Regions from separate parts of the Homo sapiens genome. Here region 1 is linked to region 2. The links come from fine-mapping of genetic effects on gene expression. A gene starts in region 2. The other region holds a variant in brackets. All regions are shown on one strand. Distances are between the middles of the regions.

Region 1 (5,236 bases), 120 kb after region 2:
CCCATGCTGTGCCCAACTCCTCCCCATTCCCTGGCTCCCCTTCCATGGGGGGCGGTTCAGACTCCTGTCCTCTGTCCTGGGGTGGCTCTGAGTGGCCTTCACTCCATCCTGCAAATCAGCAAGAGGGGTCTCCCTGCAGGCGCCCCACTGCTCACCACTTACCTGAGAGCAGGAGCCAGGTTCTGCCCTCTGCCCGCTCCCGTCTGCCCGCTCCCCTCTCCCCTCTCCCCTCTGCCCGCTCCCCTCTCCCCTCTCCCCTCTGCCCTCTGCCCTCTCCCCTCTGCCCTCTGCCCTCTGCCCTCTCCCCTCTGCCCTCTCCCCTCTGCCCTCTGCCCTCTGCTCTCTGCCCTCTCCCCTCTGCCCTCTGCGCTCTCCCTTCTGTCCTCTCCCCTCTGCCTTCTCCCTCTCCCCTCTCCCCTGTCGCCTCTGCCCTGCTCCCTTCTCTGTCCTGGGCTTCTGCCCCCCTCACCGCTCTCTGCATCCACTCCAGCTTTTCCCCCCTTCACTTTCTCCAAACAGTGATTTTTTGAAACTAATATCAACAAGATCAGGACAACTGCAATCACTTTACCCGACTTGTCAGTTTCCTATTTAGAAAATTCAGACTATGGAGTGGAATTGGCTCCTCATGGGACCCATGGTAAGTTTTTAATTTTTGAATTCACAATCAGATGATTTGGTTAAATTTTACATCCTTGTGTAGCTCCCCTACTCAACATTAACTGTGTATTCCTAGGAGTTTTCAGTAAAATTCAAAATATGTTTAAAAAGAAAAAATTCTAGACCAACTATCACCTACAACTGAATAAAACAAAGTATTTTATTATAGCCAAAGGGTTTTTCTGACTTGTCCAGCACACCAAGGTAATCAGTCAAATTTCTTAATATTTTTCTGTGAATGTCCCTGTCTGAGATGGAGGAAATAGCTGATCATAAGTCTAAATAGCAAGACAACTTCTGGGAGGAAAGCAAAATTAACTTTATGTATATGAAACTGATTTTCAGGAGAAAATGCAGACTCAAAGAAATGTTATTTTCATATTATAAAAACTATACAAAATAGAAAAAAAGATGAAATCACCTTGAACAATACAAACATCATAATTCAACCGTCGCGAATATTTCAGTGTAATTTTTAAATTTCTTCTCTACACTTACATATCTGTATAGTCATCTCTATAACATACAGGCGACTACCTATCTGCTTTTCATGTTTATAACTCGATTATAAGCATAACTCCCTATTGTCACATAGGTGTTAAGCCTTCATTGAGAGGAAGAAGAATCCAAGTTTTTATAATTTTATGGTCGGCTTCCTCATGTATTCTTTGCTTTTCTGTGCTTGACTCCTCCTCACACACTGGCTGCAGCTGGAGGAGACAGAAGCTACTACGAGGATTTCAGGTTCTTTGAGTTTCAGGCGGACTCAGCTTCCAGGGGCGAATACTCCACCTCTTGCAGCTCCTTCTTCCCTGCTGCGGGCGAGAGGGGGTCCTGGGATGGTCTGTGGCTGGCCGTGGAGGCCGGGGTCTGGGCTGGCCGTGGAGGCCGGGATCTGGTCTCTGAAATCTGGTGGCTCCTGGCAGGTGGGCACCATTGGGGGCTGAGCACACTGTGCTCCTGCCACTGCCTCTGGCTGGGGACCCTCTGGAGCAAAGCCTCGACACCCCAGACGGCCTCCTCAGCCACTGCACGTGGTCTCCACTGGAACCCCCTGACTTACTTAGGAATGCTGACTCAGAGGCGGCTGCAGGTCTGAGCCGGGGCTGTGGCTTGGCCGACAGGCACCCACAAGGCACCCGCAGCCGCTCCGAGGCCCTGCTCTGAATGCTCTGCCTTTAGATTCCGTCCTTAGCATCAGGAAAGAAAAGACCCGGCTTGTGAGCTCCTTGTCCCACCTTCTTTCACTCCAGACGTCCATCTCCATCTTTCTCCATCAGGGACTTTCTGGGCAGGACACTTCCTTGATCACATCCCCAGTTTTCCACCCAGGACTTTGTGAAAACTCCTCCAGGCCTGGCTCTTGGTATGTCAAGAGAAGTTTAAGGGATTTAGACAGTACATACATATATGTACACGTGCGTATGTGTGTGTGTGTGTTTAAGGGATTTAGACAGTACATACGTATATGTACACGTGCGTATGTGTGTGTAAGGGATTTAGACAGTACATACGTATATGTACACGTGCGTATGTGTGTGTAAGGGATTTAGACAGTACATACGTATATGTACACGTGCGTATGTGTGTGTGCGTGTTTAGGGGATTTAGACAGTACATACGTATATGTACACGTGCGTATGTGTGTGTGCGTGTTTAAGGGATTTACACAGTACATACGTGTATGTACACGTGCATATGTGTGTGCGCGTGTTTAAGGGATTTAGACAGTACATACGTATATGTACACGTGCATATGTGTGTGCGCGTTTAAGGGATTTAGACAGTACATACGTATATGTACACATGCGTATGTGTGTGTGCGTGTTTAGGGGATTTACACAGTACATACATATATGTACACGTGCGTATGTGTGTGTGCATGTTTAAGGGATTTAGACAGTACATACGTATATGTACACGTGCGTATGTGTGTGCGCGTTTAGGGGATTTAGACAGTACATACGTATATGTACACGTGCGTATGTGTGTGCGCGCGTTTAAGGGATTTAGACAGTACATACGTATATGTACACATGCGTATGTGTGTGTGCGTGTTTAGGGGATTTACACAGTACATACGTATATGTACACGTGTGTATGTGTGTGTGCGTGTTTAAGGGATTTAGACAGTACATACGTATATGTACACATGTGCGTATGTGTGTGCGCGTTTAGGGGATTTAGACAGTACATACGTATATGTACACGTGCGTATGTGTGTGTGCGTGTTTAAGGGATTTAGACAGTACATACGCATATGTACACATGTGTGTACGTGTGTGTGCGTGTTTAAGGGATTTAGACAGTACATACGTATATGTACACATGTGCGTGTGTGTGTGCGTGTTTAAGGGATTTAGACAGTACATACGTATATGTACACATGTGCGTATGTGTGTGTGCGTGTTTAAGGGATTTAGACAGTACATACGTATATGTACACATGCATATGTGTGTGTAAGGGATTTAGACAGTACATACGTATATGTACACGTGT[GTGTA/G]TGTGTGTGTGCGTGTTTAAGGGATTTAGACTACATACGTATATGTACACATGTGCATATGTGTGTGTGCGTGTTTAAGGGATTTAGACAATACATACGTATATGTGCACGTGCATATGTGTGTGCGTGTTTAAGGGATTTAGTACATACATATATGTACATGTACGTGTGTGTGTGTAAGGGCTTTAGACAGTACATATGTATATGTACACGTGTGTGTGTTTAAGGGATTTAGACAGTACATACGTATATGTACACATGTGCGTATGTGTGTGTGCGTGTTTAAGGATTTAGACAGTACATACGTATATGTACACATGTGCGTATGTGTGTGTGCGTGTTTAAGGGATTTAGACAGTACATACGTATATGTACACATGCGTATGTGTGTGTAAGGGATTTAAACAGTACATACGTATATGTACACATGTGTGTATGTGTGTGCGTGTTTAAGGGATTTAGACAGTACATATGTATATGCACACATGCGTATGTGTGTGTGCGTGTTTAAGGGATTTAGACAGTATATACGTATATGTACACATGTGCGTATGTGTGTGTGCGTGTTTAAGGGATTTAGACAGTACATACGTATATGTACACATGTGTGTATGTGTGTGTGCATGTTTAAGGGATTTAGACAGTACATACGTATATGTACACGTGTGTGTGCATGTTTAAGGGATTTAGACAGTACATACCTATATGTACACGTGCGTGTGTGTGTGCATGTTTAAGGGATTTAGACAGTACATATGTATATGTACATGTGCTTGTGTGTGTGTGTTTAAGGGATTTAGACAGTACGTATGTATATGTACACGTGTGTGTATGTGTGTGTGGGTGTTCAAGGGATTTAGATAGTACATATGTATGTGTATATGTACATGCGTGTGTATGTGTGTGTGTGAGTTCATACAAGTACTTATTTATCCACTTACTTTTCTCCTTACAGCCATGATTTTACACGTGTTTTGGTGGGAACTCAGTTATCTCGTTCCGTCAGTCAGGGCGGCAGTGATGCCTCTTCCTTTAATTTGCATTTCCACCCTGACAATCACATCTCCCTGAGCAAATGGCTATTTCTGTATGACTAGGGGAAAGATCACATATGAAGGAAAATAAAAGAGAAGAGCACACAATTTAAATAGACCTTTAAGTGATCTCTTTTGCATGGATATTCACTTTGTTTATCATCTTTCCTGGACATGTGTTGGGAATGGGATTAACTGGAGGGTGCAGTACAGAGCAGCATTCCAGAGCCGGCTCTGTGAGGGTTTCAGGCGAGAGCCGGTGCCAGGGCTGCCAGGACTTCCGTGCTTGTCGTCGTGGGGCAGGGATGGATGCCTGATTTCAGACGGAAGAACGCCACTCTCATCAGCAGTGGAACTGAGTCGAGTCCTCAGTGGCCCTGTGGAGTCTTGCAGGTGAATGCTCCAGTAAGCGACGGCCACCCCCGAGGTGTTCCTGAGATGTAGAGATAATTCCAGCTGTGCTGTGTGCTGTCTAACATTTTGGGTTCTCAGTGATGTGGGTGGAGAGATGGTTCCAGCTGCACGGTGTGCCGTCTAACATCCTGGGCTTGTTCCTGGTGTTCTCAGTGATGTGGGTGGAGAGATGGTTCCAGCTGCACTGTGTGCCGTCTAACATTCTGGGCTTGTTCCTGGCGTTCTCGGTGATGTGGATGGAGAGATGGTTCCAGCTGCACTGTGTACCGTCTAACATTCTGGGCTTGTTCCTGGTGTTCTCAGTGATATGGGTGGAGAGATGGTTCCAGCTGCACTGTGTGCCGTCTAACATTCTGGGCTTGTTCCTGGTGTTCTCGGTGATGTGGGTGGAGAGATGGTTCCAGCTGCGCTGTGTGCCGTCTAACATTCTGGGCTTGTTCCTGGTGTTCTCGGTGATGTGGGTGGAGAGATGGTTCCAGCTGCACTGTGTGCCGTCTAACATCCTGGGTTCTCGGTGATGTGGGTGGAGAGATGGTTCCAGCTGCGCTGTATGCTGTCTAACATTCTGGGCTTGTTCCTGGTGTTCTCGATGATGTGCGGCAGAGGGAAGGCCCTCACACTTTG
Region 2 (5,236 bases):
AGCTACTTTTATTAACAAAACTGCATTTTGAACTCCACTGCTTGACAACTATGGCCTTTGTTTCTTAAGTCAATTCTTACCTTTCTGGGGCCTTGGTTTAACTACTTCCTTTGTTTTAAGGACACAAAGCTTGTCAGTTCTCAAAATAAAAACCTGTCTCTCTGGTCAGATCATTAACTCCCTAGTCAAACTTTCAGACTACCGTCTGAACATCAAGTGCTAGCCTGAGCTTGTTTCCAGTCCCCCAACCCCAGGCTGTGGCTGGGGAAGGAAGAGGACAGCGAAAGCTTTCTCTGCTCCCTCGGGAGACAGGAAAGCCCTTTATTTATTCCTGCCCTTCCTCTTCTCCAACTGAAGAGTGTGATCTTGGTACAGAGCAGTTCCACACATGCCACACTGGTCTGATCTTTTAGAGTAAAAAATGGGATCTTCTCAGAGAAAATTTTTTTAAAAACTTCATGTGCTTAGGTCTCAGAGCAGAGAATTTTGTCTTATCATGACGCCACTCACTGGCAAACAAGCTGGCGTGCACAGGGACTTGTGAGGCTCTCAGCAGAGTCAGGGTAGCAGTTATTTCCCTTTGACTGCCTCAACTTCCTATGTTTGTGTTGACATGCCAGATCCTTATTTCTGCGGAATGAGAAATCTCTTGAGAATAAAGTTTTCCTAAACAGAACAAAAGTATCAAATCACTTTTGATGAGCAAACATTATTTTAAACTTTTTTTTAACTTACAAAAGATGAGGGGTAACATTTACTAGTTTTACAGAAATTTTCTTTAAACAGAACATTAGTGAACCAAATAACCAATTCTCCTCAAACATGATAGACAGGATGGAGGTTATCACTTTGATCATTTTAACCTCCAACATAGTAATTTGTAAACATCAGTCGCTGCACAAGTATTTTAATAACAGGCCAGCCCACGGGAGTAAACAGCACCTTAGCCTCGAGACCTGTTCTCTCAACTGTGTGTACAGATTTTCTAAGTCGTTATGAATTCAGATATTCCCTACATCTCAATAAAAACACCTAGGAGAACAAGAAATCAGGACATGCATCTCCTGTAAGCAGAAGAGAAACCGAGCACCTGCTCTCTTGCGGGGGGGCAGCTTCGTGTCACTTTCCAACTCAGCCTCCACAGGAGCATGGGCATATTGGTTCAAATGAAGTGTAAAGGACACATCTCTGTCCACAGTGTAAATCCTATTTCCTTAAGGTGGTCAACCGATTGAGACCAGTTCCACACTTCCTTAAAGAAGGAAAAACTCAGCAGCCAGCGCCAAGGCCCAGCGATCAGAGAGGACCCGTGCTCGCCGCGACCCCGCGCTCGCCCTGTGGCCCCGCGACCCCGGCGCCAGGTGTTGGGGGGACCGGCCCTTCCCTTCCGGGTGTGAGGGGCTGGCCCTTCTCTTCCAGGTTGGGGGGCTGGCAAACTCGAACCTCGCCGGCGCCCTAGCCAAGGCCTCCTCCCCGCGCCTGCCGCGGGTTCCACGCACATTCCAAGCGCGCGCATTCGACCCAAACTTCAGAGACGCTTCTGTGGAACGGAAGGATGGTCGCTGACACCTCGCCGTTCAAATATCAGGAAGTTAAAAATAACACGACCATCGTCATCATTCCAAACTTCGGAATAGCTTTTCTAAAAATGGAAAAGACGGTGGCTAAACTTCAATCAAAATCGCTGTGGTCAAGAAAGTCCTGGAAGCTGCTCTATCTTAACTTTGGGCGGTTTGCGGTTAACAGACGCGCGACCTAGAAACCCCAGAGGCATCGCCGGTTTTCCCGTCCTCCTCCTCCCACCACCGCCCAGCTCTTGAGAGGGGAGGGTGCTGCCGGACAGGTGGGTCCCCGGGTACTCACTGCTGCCCGCCCGGCCGCGGCGCCCCGTCCCGAGGCTGCCCAGGAAGAGGAAGGCGCGCTGCCCCGCCCCGCGGACAAGGAGGCCCCAGCGAGGGCGTACCTGCGGCAGGTGACGAAGGAGGCGGCGCAAAACACCCGCCGTGTACGTTTCGCGGGACAAAAACCACGCGCCCGCCGGGCCGCGCTCAGGCCTTCGCCCTCAGGGACTTCGGAACCGCCCCGTCCTCAAGATCGAAAAGCCCAGAGCCCCGCGGCGGCTCCAAGCACGGTGTTGGGGGTGGGGGTCTCAGGGAGCGCCCAGGCCCAAGGCCGCCCTGGTCCGGCGTGGACCCCGCGGGGCTCAAGGCAGGTTCCCCGCGTGACCCGCCCAGCCCCTCTATGCGAACTCGAACGACAGGCACCACAGCCCGCCACGTGCGCGAGACTCGCGCTGTGCCCCAACCCAGGTGGGCGGCCCGCGGAGCCGCGAGGCCTGAGCCCGCCCTGCAGGTGACCCGCGGCCCTTCCTCCTCCAGGTACCCCTCTCCTGCGGCCCCGTCCCCTATAGGTAACCTTTACCTCCCGCGGCTCCTTCCCCTCCAAGCGACCCGCAGCCCCGCCCCCTCCAGGTGACTCCCCCCCGCCAACCCCCGCCACCACACACACACACCCCCTCGCCTTCCGCGGCCCTACTCCCTCCAGGTGACCCCACCCCCGCAGCTCCTCCTCCTCCGGACAACCTGCAGCCCCGCCCCTGCAGGTGAACGGCGGCCCAGTCCCTGCAGGTGACCCGCGGACCCTCCCCGCCCGTCCTACTACCGTCATAGGACCGCCTCCGCAGGCGCACTGGAGCCGATTGCGCAGGCGTGGCTCTCACACGCGCTGCCCTGTTGGCGTTGGTGCGGGACTGCGCAGGCGCGCGGGGCAAGAGGGTGGCAGTGCGCCTGCGCCGCGTCGGCGTGCGGAACGCCGCGGTGTCTCGGCGCCTCTGCGCGCGGGAAGATGGCGGAACAGGCTACCAAGTCCGTGCTGTTTGTGTGTCTGGGTAAGAGGGCGCCGACTTACTCATGTTCTGACGTCCTCTGGAGAGTTGGATCGGGCTTGTGCGCTGTAGGTTGTGCCGCCGGCCTAGGAACCATGAGGGGGAGGAGGCCAGGGACTGGGAGGCCTAGGGTGTTCTAGGAGTGTGCCGCAGCGCCCCTGTTCCCCATCCGCCCCGTGCACCCGCCCAGCCTGCCCGCTAAACCTGGGTCCCCTCGCGCCTGCCATATATCCGGGGCTCTTGGCATCTGCAGCCACAGCCCCTACAAGCCAAGGTACTTTCTTTGCGACTACTAGAATCCCTCTCGTTCCCCTCCAATGGGCCCAGGTAGGCCTGGAGGTTGTCGGACTGATGTGGTCTCTTAGGGGCCTCCTGAGTCCTATGACAACATTGTTTTGTTTGCTAGTTTCCTTAGCCCATGCTTAGATAGGGATCTGAGTTAAAGGGAGATGAAGTTTTACGGTTTCGGGTTTCTTGATTGTAAAAGCCAAGCAAAGGAGACCTGGAGGTCCCTATATAACTTTGGCCCATGAAAAATGAAAGTGTATTTTATTAATGGCTTTTCAGGAACTTTCCAGCTTAAATTATTTTCACTCCTAGAATTTCAACACTTAGCTTGCCTTACTTCAAACATAATTTATTTTCCGTTTGGTCTTCAGGGATCTTCCTTTGGTGTAGCACTACAAGGTTATATTCCTCGGTGCCTCCACCCTGAGAGGAAGGCCTAAATTGTCAGTAGTCCGGTTACTTAAAACCTTCTGTGAGTTTGCATTTCCTGCAGTTTCTGTTTATTTTTACAGACTCCTCACTTTATCTCCTGTACCTTTTCCTGCTCACACCCTCGGGACACTGCCTTCCAGAACCTTTCGTTGTTCGGTAGCACTTCACATGCTTACTGAGCCTTCATCGCTGGGTGCCCATTATGCATTTTGCCTGGAAAGCCTTTTTATTTTATAAAGTCAAACCTAAATATTTCCTCCTTTGCTTTCCCAGATCATGAGTTGCTTCCTTATCGACATCTTTTATTACACAAATTTTACTATAATTTGTGTAATATAGTAAAAGATGTAATACAGAAAAGGTGTGATTCCTTATCGACATCTTTTATTACACAAATTTTACTATAATTATTTGATAGTCTGTTGAAATCCCAGCTGAGTTTAATTTTGTCGATGGCAATAACTGTGGCTTATTTTTCATTTTGTTTTCAGCTTTAGGACAATATATGATAAACGCTGACTAGGTTTTGTAGAAGTTAACTTCTGTGAAAGACGAATTAGAAGGCTTACCTTGTTTCACATTGGTAGTGGGCATCATTTGATTTTTAAGACTCATTGAAGGCTGAATGATGAAATCAATAAGTTTATTAAACAGTAGTTTGGTTAAGGATGGTTACTAAATAATATTCCATTCCCTTGTATAGTTTTGGTTGGTATTGTCGATTATGCTGGCATAATGCATCATGGTTGCTGTTAATGGGGAAGTGTATCCTTGCATATACAGTAGTCCCACTTTAGCTGTAGGGGATACATTCCAAGACTCCCCAGTGGATCCCGAAACTGTGGGTAGTACCAAACCCAATTGCTGTCAATTGGAACATGTGTCTGCTCGTTTCTTACACCCACAAATGTAATACCGTTGCCACCTTAACTAAGCATTTAAAACTGTGGTCGCAACTTTTGCAGTTTGAGGCAAGACAGCAGACGATCAGGAATTTCTTTTTCCTTGTTTACATTTTCATGGATAGAAGATTTGTTCGTACTGTAGATCTTAGTAACCTCGGTATAAGTTTTTTTTTTCTTTCCATAAGAAGTCAAAAACTTTCACCTTTTTACTTAAGGGTAGTGCTTATGGCTTCTCTTTGCCGTATCTGAATTGCTAGCTTCACTACTCTTATGATTTCGGGCCATTATTAGTAAACTAAGGGTGACTCGAACTCAGGCACTGTGATAGCATCACAATGGATCTGATAAGCTAGAGGGCAATAGGTGGATAGACAGCATGGATATGCTGGACAAAGACGTGTTTCACTTCTGGGGCAGGACGGAATGGGATGGCATGAGAATTTATCCTGCTACTCAGAACAGTGCACAATTTAAAACTTAGGAATTATTTGTGGAATTCTTCATTTAATATTTTCCAACTGAAGCTGACCATGGGGTAACCATGGAAAGCAAAACCTTGGAAAAGAGGGGACTATTGTATTTCAATACAATTCAGTGATTTTTTGTTGTTGTTGAGCATCTACTATATGGCATGCATTCCTCTAAGTGGTGTGGTGAACACAACAGACAAAAATCCCAGCCTCTCTGGAGCTCACGTTCTCTCAGTCACCAGCAAGTATTAATTGAT

What was found. PIP is the estimated chance that this variant, and not a neighbour inherited with it, causes the effect. A credible set is the group of variants that fine-mapping cannot tell apart.
Region 1: its variant is the best candidate, but not a certain one, in a credible set for the expression of ACP1 in tibial artery (GTEx, PIP 0.59).

Annotation. Positions count from the first base shown.
Region 1 is chr2:386,572-391,807 of GRCh38, forward strand. It overlaps LOC105373351 (a long non-coding RNA gene), which reads left to right. Exons shown (of 3, transcript XR_922703.3): 3 at 520-706. Among named protein-coding and RNA genes, the nearest start is that of LINC01865, 73 kb to the left of the region's middle. The variant GTGTA/G (reference allele first, on the strand shown) is at 3,161.
Region 2 is chr2:262,121-267,356 of GRCh38, forward strand. ACP1 (acid phosphatase 1) reads left to right here and starts at 2,827. Exons shown (of 6, transcript NM_004300.4): 1 at 2,827-2,887. The coding sequence starts at 2,845. SH3YL1 (SH3 and SYLF domain containing 1) reads right to left here and starts at 1,912. Exons shown (of 10, transcript NM_015677.4): 1 at 1,864-1,912. The coding sequence starts at 1,864. RefSeq lists silencers at 1,808-2,387, 2,458-2,537 and an enhancer at 2,888-2,937.